3 separate regions of the Homo sapiens genome follow, and regions 1 and 3 are each reported to be linked to region 2. The links are microRNA targets in miRTarBase. Many come from high-throughput screens and were not tested one by one. Region 2 holds a microRNA gene; each other region holds the end of a gene's coding sequence.
What was found. The annotated mature microRNA hsa-miR-4768-3p reads CCAGGAGAUCCAGAGAGAAU and lies in region 2 at 2,253-2,272, shown strand. An mRNA with a match to its seed (bases 2 to 7 or 8) in the 3' UTR can be bound and repressed. Matches are read on the target gene's strand: a 7mer-m8 pairs with bases 2 to 8, a 7mer-A1 pairs with bases 2 to 7 and ends in A, and an 8mer does both.

Region 1 (3,257 bases), not on the chromosome of region 2:
AAGAGTCAGTCTGGCTCACTAGACAAAAATCTATTTTTAATTGTATAAAATTATACATATAAAATACATAGAATGTACTAAGAAGATGAGTAAAATCTTTGACACCAGAAGTGGACAGATCAGGAAACAATTTTTCTCAAGTTATTTGGGATCTTACTGGTTGGTATTTGAGAAAAATAATAAATCCAGGAGGTACGAGGGCAATTCTTCCCACAACTCACACCCCTTAATCCACACGTCCCAGAGAAAGGAGAAACAGGAGTGTTGATGAGTGCCAGCTTATAAATGTCAAACAGACACACCTGGTGTGTCTAGCTGTTTTTGCCTTTACTCCAACCCGACGTGTTTCATGGAATACAAACATGGGGCTTCTACCCCAGCTCTCTTCTGATTAGTAAGAAAAAAAAAATGATAGGGCCTGGAGAATTCAAGGAAGCCCGTTTCAAGCACTAATAAAATTGTAGCTGGATTCCTTACCTCTTACCCAACATGATTTCAAAAGCAAGAAAGTTGCCTTTCATCTTGCCCCTATCAAATCCAAAAGAGCCAATTATAGCCTGTTTCATAATCTATTTTTATTGTTGTTGTTACACTTGAACTTTCTGTTTGGAACCTAATCTATTTCTAAAAGCAAAGTCTGTATAATTGTTAAGTGGGAAGTCCAATTGCAGGAATACTAAATGTTCCAAGCTCAGTTTAGAAAGTACATGGGACAATAATATAGTATAAATAAGAGATCACAGAGACAAGGGGGAAATATATATTAGAGACCTCCAAAAAAATTCTCTGAAAGGAGAATACTTTAGCTGCTGTACTACAGGTTATTTCTCTCTTATGTCACCCAGGAGAGAAGTGGGGGAGAATGGTGTTAAAAACACAAATAGTGCCGGGCGCGGTGGCTCACGCCTGTAATCCCAGCACTTTGGGAGGCCGAGGCGGGCGGATCACGAAGTCAGGAAATCGAGACCATCCTGTCAAACACGGTGAAACCCCGTCTCTACTAAAAATACAAAAAAATTAGCCAGGCATGGTGGCGGGCGCCTGTAGTCCCAGCTACTAAGGAGGCTGAGGCAGGAGAGTGGCGTGAACCCGGGAGGCGGAGCTTGCAGTGAGCCGAGATAGCGCCACTGCACTCCAGCCTGGGCGACAGAGCGAGACTCCGTCTCAAAAAAAAAAAAAACACACAAATAGTTTGGGAGGCCGAGGCAGGTGGATCACGAGGTCAGGAGATGGAGACCGTCCTGGCTAACATGGTGAAACCCCGTCTCTACTAAAAATACAAAAAATTAGCTGGGCGTGGTGGTGGGCACCTGTAATCCCAGCTACTCGGGAGGCTGAGGCAGGAGAATGGTGTGAATCTGGGAGGCGGAGGTTGCAGTGAGCCGAGATCGCGCCACTGCACTCTAGCCTGGGCGACAGAGCAAGACTCCGTCTCAAAAACAAAAACAAAAACAAAACCAAAAAAAAACCACAAATAGGCCAGGCTCAGTGCCTCACGCCTGTAATCCCAGCACTTTGGGAGGCTGAGGCGGGTGGATTACCTTATGTCAGGAGTTCAAGAACAGCCTGGCCAACATGGTGAAACCCTGTCTCTACTAAAAATATAAAAATTAGCCAGGCGTTGTGGCGTGTGCCTGTAATCCCAGCTACTCGGGAAGCTGAGGCAAGAGAATCGCTTGAACCCTGGAGGCAGAGGTTGCAGTGAGCCGAGATCACGCCACTGCACTCCAGCCTGGGCAAAAGTGTGAGACTCTGTCTTCCAAAAAAAAAAAAAAACCACACACACACACAAATAACTGATCATTGATTCTCTTTCCCTTCCTGCAGTCTCCCAAGGTGTCAATTAGGAAGTGCCAAAATACTAAAGTCTCATTTAATTTTCCTGATCAACTTATGTTCTAATAATTAATGTGGAAGGAGAGGAAAGAAAGAGAAAACAAATGAGAATCTAAGGTAGTAAACAGCAGCAACTTAGCGGGAATAAGGGGAACATGGTTCTCACTAACCAAATAGGACTGATAACGCTTCCAAAAAATAAAATGTTAGGTGAAGGGAAATATGGAAATATGTTTTACTTTCTACTAATAGCTGCAGGCAGGAAGGTCCAAACGCAGGGTTTAACTAAGCTGGGGGAGTAGGGGAGATGTTTAGAGGGAATACTGAAAGAGAATCAGTTTCAACCATAACCCCCATCTACTGTAGAGTATATCCAGAAATCTAGACTACTAGTATGGTATACATATGCCCTAGAAGCAACTTAGGTAGTAAACTCCCATGAATTGTTTGTAATTTATCTTGTCCCTGGGCAGTTTCTTAGGAGGGGTTTCAGAAGCAAGATCTCTACTTCCTTCAGAATAATAAGGTAGGGAAGGAAGCCTCAAAACAAAGTGGCAATTTGGAGGCAGAGAAGGAATAAGGTAGTGGTGGGGAGGAAAGGGATAGCAAGCAGGTTCAGTTCAGGAACTAAAGGCAAAATCTTCATACTCATACCCTGTTTGAGTCCAAGAGGAAGCAGGAATGAGAGTAAGGGTGGGGCACATAATCCTTATTCAAGTTACCTGATATTTGAAAAGAAGGACACATGAACACTAGAGTTAATCTTTTAGTGCTACTGAAATGGCTACACAGTTAATCTGGAAGTTTAAGAGCTAACAAAGCTGCAAAGACAAGCTGCTCTTTGTTGTAAAGTGGACTGAAGATGTTTCAAATAAAACTACATCCAAAAACTGGTAGTAAGAAAAGGGATCTCTTAGCAAATAGGAATCTAGGTGTAGAATTTATACACATATATATTTTTTAAAGTATAAAAATGAGAAAGTATGTACAAAAAATCATCCTAAATCTTAGAAAGGAGACATAAAAAAAGGCTGTGGAAAGCCTGGGGAGTTATGTGGGTGGATGCCTAGCAGTTGGAAGAATGCATATTGCCCAACTGCCCAGCAGCCAGCACAAGAATATCTTTCTTCTCCTTGTGGAAGCGCAGCTCCTTGCCTGCCAGTCGGGCTTCATCCAGCTCCCGCTCAGTAGAGGCCAGCTCTCTAGACAGTGCCCCCGGCACACTCTGCTCCCGGCTCACCCAGTCCAAGGCCATTTGGTGGCGAATATCATCATCCAGGGCCCGGTGCGAATAATGAGCCAACACCTCCTAGTAGGGGAGGGGAATGTGAACATCATTGAGAAGGTAAAGGTTCATATCATACCACACTGACCCAACTGGGACTAAGAACTCAGCTTTAGAGACCTAACTGAGGTCAGCA
Region 2 (3,257 bases):
TTCCATTTCTCCATCTGTAAAATGGAGATAATCCTTCCTCACCTTGCAGGGATGTTGGGAGGATTAATTAGCTAGTGTTCCTCAAGTGCTTTGAAGATGAAAAGGCTTGTGGAAGTGCTAAGTATTAAGGCAAGGCAGCGAATGCCTGCTGGAAGTGCTCTTCCTTTCCTCATCCTCTTGTCAGCAGTTGTGTTTCTCTTGCCTTTTCTGCATATTTCACAGACCAAAGTGCTGGCATGGTAGGTAGGACAATGCATGGATCAGCACAGAACAAAGACAGTAATGCCTTATTTTATGCCTTGCTACTAACTTGGCTTATCAGTTGGCATGACCTCTGAAGATCTTTTTGCTCTGAATGTTTTAATCATCAAGTTCTGGTGGTTATCCAAGGTGATCCTAATCTACTTTGGGGTGGAGGGAGGAAGTGGTGTCAGGAGAGATCAAACCAGGCCACCTTGAGCTGAAAGCTCTGAAGGAGAAGGATTCCTTGAAATGGAGGTAATTTTTGAATTATAATAAGTGAGAAGACTGCAAGGGAGACAAGCTGAGGGACAAATGCTCTGTGCTTTTCTCCTCACTTTCACAAACAGGAGGAGAACTTCCACTGACCTAGCAGTAGTTTGCTCCTCCAGGCTGTCATGTCTTCTGATCATGTCTTTTATGAGGTGAATTTCTCCTCATGAAAGACTAGACTTTAAGGAGAGATTCTGTGCAGGTCCCTACAGTGTGGAGATGGATTGATTGGGCCTACAGATTGCAGCTAATCAATTCATCCTTTGCTTCCCAAAGGTTTATGCATTTGGGTGGAGTTCACAATGAGTGGTCTGGGTGCAGGGCCGTGTGGAGAAGCATGTCCACCGCTCTTGCCCCGGTGGCTTCTTTAGATAATCTTGCAATCTTCACAGGTTCTTTTCTAGGTATGTTATTGTTTGGAATAACTCCCTTGAGTTTGGAAGAAGAAAAGGAATAGTACCAGGTTTACTCAATCATTTGTTAGTTTGCTTGTTATCTTAAAAAATTCTATAAAATTCTTTTGAGAAGTTTCTCTGCTCATTGATCTTGAAAATCTCCTTGCTTTAGAGAATGGATGTGCTCCTCATATGCTAAGGATAAACCAGATTTTGGTAAATCAGGTTATCTTAGGGGTCCCAGGTGAGTTTGCCATTTTAACGATGCTTAGAGTGAATCCTTGTATAAGGGAAAGTATCTTGTATATTCTGTATCCTTTAGGAACTCACGTCTGTTGACTTTATCAGATGTTGGGGTGGTGGTGAGGCTAAAGACCAATAGGCGACATATGGCAGGATCTTCCCTCCAAGTGACCCTCTGGAAAGGGCTATACTTACTTAATTTTGGTGGAGCTCATCATAGGGTCAGGAAACCAGGGAGAAAGCTGAGCAACTGGTATTTATAGATCTTTCTCTTTAAATCAGGTTTGCTCATGATTTGTCTGGTCTTTATTCTTCTCCATGTCTGAAACTGAGTTCCTTGGATTCCCTTCTCTTCAAAGCCCTCTTGGCAACCTTCTGAGGAATGGCAGAGTTCATTCTGATCCACGTCCGGTGAGCGTAGCTCAACCGTGATGGAGCTTGACCTGTCAAATTCACAGAAAAATGTCCGTTACATATTCCAGCTGTTCCTTAAACATGCTCCCTAAGAGCTAGTTCCATTTGTTAGCTGTCAGAACGATGTGGAGGAATTGCTCCAGACCCTTGGATGTCATCAACCACTTTTGTTTATACACCAGTTATTTTCTCTATTAGCAAATCAATGTTTGGCAAAAAGAAAGCACAGGCTAAGAACTTTTCCTGATGAGTTGCTGCCCCAGCCTTGGAACTCTTCTCAGCCAAAAAAAAAAAAAAAAAAAAAAAAAAAAAAAAAAAAAAAAAAAAAAAAAGAAAGAAAGAAAGAAAGAAAGAAATTGAGGAGGAATTCAGTTTTACATGTTTTCCTTCCTGCTTACATGAACAGAGGAGGCCTACCTGAAGCTGAATCCAAGCACTGCCTTTGACGTTGGTAAAGATGGGGCTCTGAGCTCACATATCACCTTGGAAACTGGATCCTGTTACTGCTGGGAAAGGAATGCTTGGTTGCCAAAAGCATTAAGATAGGGAATGTGGATTCCACCTCTCAGTGCTCCTGCCTTGGATCAATTAGGTAGGATACTACCCAGAGATACAGACATGATGGACCAAGTAACTTCTCCAAACTTTGATTCTCTCTGGATCCCATGGATATGGGAACTGTGATGTCCAGGAGATCCAGAGAGAATCAGAGTTTCAGTGAGTGAAACCTAGAGTGTGTGCTGCTAGGATTTTCCTCATAAACCTGGGTGTTTTATTCTTGTGGGCCAGAAAGTTATTTCATTCCTAAACCCGTGATGTAGACTTCTCAGAAATTCCAGTGGTGTGGAGGATCCAGCTTCTATCAGCTCACAAGAGCTGATTGCACATATCTCTCCCCAACTGCTGTTCAGTGGCATCAAGTTGGTAGCTTGAAATCTGCCATGATGAGAGTATTTACACTATAGAAATTGGCAAATATGGCAAATAAGGGTCCCCACCACCCATGCTTGTGAAACATCTTCCAGCACACCAAGGAAATTATCCTAACACGTAACATCACTTATGGGGGCTGTTTAGCTTCAGGGGAGGAAATCCCCTTTGCTCTGATCTCATTGTGTGTACCTGCTTTGCATAGGCAGACTACCCCTTGTTCTCTCATCTATTAAACTCGACCTGAGAGAGAGCTTCATGAGATGGGTTGTGTGACAGGAGATCACTAGGGTAATGAGTCTGTTCCTTTCGCTGCTCAGCTATATGACAGGTTATTTTACCTCTCTAGGCCTCAGCTTCCTCTTCACTATAATAAAAGTAATTTAGATCATTAAATAATTGCTAAGTTTCCTTGTAGCTTCGACATTCTGCAATTTGATGAGTGCTTGGCTGCTGGAAAATGTCATGTGTTTCAAAGGCTTGGGGCACATGCACATCATTCACAGTGACCAGCTGAGCTCTCTCATTTTCTTTCTGGATCTTGGACTCCCAGTAATTCTACTTTTATCTGGACTTCTATCTTCAGCATGAATGAGCAGGGTGCCTCTAAGTGAGAAGCATAATTGATTAGTTCCTTCCATCTGGGGGTGTCAAAGCACTTTCAAGTCAGTAGTCAGTATCCATCATGGTTGCTCTGCAGGGAAGACTGCCTGAGAGTGCCTGTTTTGCAAGGGACATATCACAGTGGTGGACCAAGGACCC
Region 3 (3,257 bases), not on the chromosome of region 2:
AAACTAGTTCAACTATTGTGGAAGTCAGTGTGGCGATTCCTCAAGGATCTAGAACTAGAAATACCATTTGACCCAGCCATCCCATTACTGGGTATATACCCAAAGGACTATAAATCATGCTGCTATAAAGACACATGCACACGTATGTTTATTGTGGCATTATTCACAATAGCAAAGACTTGGAACCAACCCAAATGTCCAACAATGATAGACTGGATTAAGAAAATGTGGCACATATACACCATGGAATACTATGCAGCCATAAAAAATGATGAGTTCATGTCCTTTGTAGGGACATGGATGAAATTGGAAATCATCATTCTCAGTAAACTATCGCAAGAACAAAAAACCAAACACCGCATATTCTCACTCATAGGTGGGAATTGAACAATGAGATCACAGGGACACAGGAATGGGAATATCACACTCTGGGGACTGTGGTGGGGTGGGGGGAGGGGGGAGGGATGGCATTGGGAGATACACCTAATGCTAGATGACGAGTTAGTGGGTGCAGCGCACCAGTATGGCACATGTATACATATGTAACTAACCTGCACAATGTGCACATGTACCCTAAAACTTAAAGTATAAAAAAAAAAAAGAAAACTCAATAACATTTTAAATTTGAATCATGAGGTATTAGTATATTAATACCAGACCCTCTAATAAGTCCAATTTTCTTAACTATTACAAATATTTAAACTATTGTATTAGTCTGTTTTCACACTGCTATAAAGAACTACCTGAGGCCGTGCACGGTGGCTCACGCCTGTAATCCCAAAACTTTGAGAGGCTGAGGCAGGTAGATCACAAGGTCAGGAGTTCGAGACCAGCCTGGCAAACATGATGAAACCCTGTCTCTACTAAAAATACAAAAATTAGCCAGGCGTGGTGGCAGGCGCCTGTAGTCCCAGCTACTTGGGAGGCTGAGGCAGGAGAATCGCTTGAAGCCAGGAGGCAGAGGTTGCAGTGAGCCAAGATCGGCGTGCGCCACTGCACTCCAGCCTGGGTGACGGAGCAAGACTCCATCTAAAAAAAAAAAAAAGAACTATCTGAGACTGAGTAATTTATAAAGGAAAGAAGTTATTGACTCACAGATCTGCATGGCTGGGGAGGCCTCAGGAAACACAATCATGATGGAAGGTGAAGAGGAAGCAAGGTATGTCTTACGTGGCGACAGAAGACAGAGAGAACAAGGGGGTAAGTGGCACACTTTTAAACCATCAGATCTCGGCTGGACTTGGTGGCTCATGTCTGTGATCCCAGCAGTATGGGAGGCCAAGGTAGGTGGATTACTTGCGATCAGGAGTCTGAGACCAGCCTGGCCAACATGGTGAAACTGCATCTCTACTAAATACAAAAATTAGCTAAGTGTGGTGGCAGACACCTGTAATCCCAGCTACTTGGGAGGATGAGGCAGGAAAATTGCTTGAACCTGGGAGGTAGAGGTTGCAATGAGCCAAGTTCATGTCACTGCACTCCAGCCTCGGTGACAGAGCGAGATTCCATCTCAAAAAAATAAAAATAAATCATCAGATCTCGTGAGAACTCACTCACTATCACAGGAACAGCATGGAGGAAACCGGCCCCATAATCCAATCACCTCCCACCAGGTCCCTGGTCCCTCCTGAGGGACATGGGGATTACAATTCGAGATAAGATTTGGGTGGAGACAGAGCCAAACCATATCAAATATGAAACAAACATAGATCTTTCACAAAGTTAATGCCAAATGATTAATTTTATTGGTTGTTAATTCATTATTTCTACCTATAAGGGTCAAATGAGAGAGTTTTCCCATTCAAGCAAATTGGGGCTATTAGCAGAAGCTAGTTGATTTAACCACACCAAATAAGCAGGGTTATCTGCTCAGTGGCTGATATTGAACCAGAAGCTTTTGACAAAGATACCTCTGGAGCAGCCAACAACTAAGATACTTTCTCAGACACAGAGGCAACTTTCGTCCTATTGTACAGTCACTTTGCAATTAGAGACCCTAACCCCATTCTTCTCCAAGTGGGGTTGTCTCATAGACCCCCATTCCCTGGGTGCAAGTTATACATTATCTAATAATACCCAAGATTGGATTCAATTATCTACTGCTTGATTCTAGTCTTAATTATTTTCATATTTTTCTTCTTGGTTAGGGATATAACACTTACAGATATCTTAAAGATATCCAATTCGGGCTGGGCACTGTGGCTTACACACGTAATCCCAACACTTTGAGAGGCCTAGGTGGGCGGATCACCTGAGGTCGGGAGTTCAAGACCAGCCTGACCAACATGGAGAAACCCTGCCTCTACTAAAAATACAAAATTAGCTGGGTGTGGTGGTGCATGCCTGTAATCCCAGCTACTCGAGAGGCTGAGGCAGGAGAATCACTTTAAGCCAGGAAGCAGAGGTTGCGGTGAGCCGAGATCGTGCCATTGCACTCCAGCCTGGGCAACAAGAGTGAAACTCTGTCTCAAACAAACAAACAAAGATATCCAATTCAGTCATGTATATCTTTCTTTGTTTTACATGCTAATGACAGTAGTCTTTTACTTTCATGGCAACTCTTCTGCTTACTATATGATAGGAATGGCCTGGGTAAAGGATATGCTTTATAGATCTCTGGAGTTAGCTCTTTAATGCTTCCCTCCCCTCTTCTGCCCTGCTTTTGAGTGGTGTGCCTTAGCTTGTGAAGGATTGGTTGAGGATGACTTAGGTTGAGGGGGTCTGGGCTGAGAAGGCTTAGACTGGGGAGGCCAGGGCTGGCTTGGCTTAGGCTGAGTAGATTTGCATGGAGAAGGTTTAGTTTGGGAGGGCTGGGACTGACAGGATTTTGTCTGAGAGGATTTAGGTTGAGAGGGCACAGAATGGAAGGGTTTAGGCTGGGAGTGTTTGACTGTGGATGGGTTGGACTGATCGGATTTGAACTGAGAGCTCTTGCACATGGGATGGGACCCTATTTGGAGAGCTGGATTTGAAGCCCCACCTTGTGTCTTCATCTGGACTCCTTGCTGAGAAGCAGGTCTTAGTTTTTGTGTGGCTGCTGCTGGTTGAAAGGACTGAGGGTGAGGCTTTCCAATATGGGATGTTCTTATCAGTTTTCCAGTTGCTTCAGTTAACTCTGTTACCCTGGTGCAAGCTTGCTGAGGCCATGGCTTCCCTACTGCTCTTGCTGGCTGTGAATCCAGGGAATAGGAGTGACCTATCTTGGAGGCTACTGCCCTAGACCTTTCAAGAGTTCCCATCATTTGTGGTCTCTCAGG

Region 1: miRTarBase lists LIX1L as a target of hsa-miR-4768-3p. Seed matches in the 3' UTR shown: 7mer-A1 at 1,548-1,554, 7mer-m8 at 1,341-1,347, 8mer at 1,223-1,230, 7mer-m8 at 1,072-1,078 and 7mer-m8 at 843-849.
Region 3: miRTarBase lists CARD6 as a target of hsa-miR-4768-3p. Seed matches in the 3' UTR shown: 7mer-m8 at 2,374-2,380.

Annotation. Positions count from the first base shown.
Region 1 is chr1:145,933,408-145,936,664 of GRCh38, forward strand. LIX1L (limb and CNS expressed 1 like) reads right to left here. Exons shown (of 6, transcript NM_153713.3): 6 at 16-3,145. The coding sequence ends at 2,903. All of the region lies in intron 2 of LIX1L-AS1 (LIX1L antisense RNA 1), which reads left to right. Among named protein-coding and RNA genes, the nearest start is that of RBM8A, 7.6 kb to the left of the region's middle.
Region 2 is chrX:17,423,675-17,426,931 of GRCh38, forward strand. MIR4768 (microRNA 4768) reads left to right here and starts at 2,207; the gene lies at 2,207-2,280. All of the region lies in intron 1 of NHS (NHS actin remodeling regulator), which reads left to right.
Region 3 is chr5:40,853,820-40,857,076 of GRCh38, reverse strand. It overlaps CARD6 (caspase recruitment domain family member 6), which reads right to left. Exons shown (of 3, transcript NM_032587.4): 3 at 1,723-3,257. The coding sequence ends at 2,631. Among named protein-coding and RNA genes, the nearest start is that of CARD6, 14 kb to the right of the region's middle.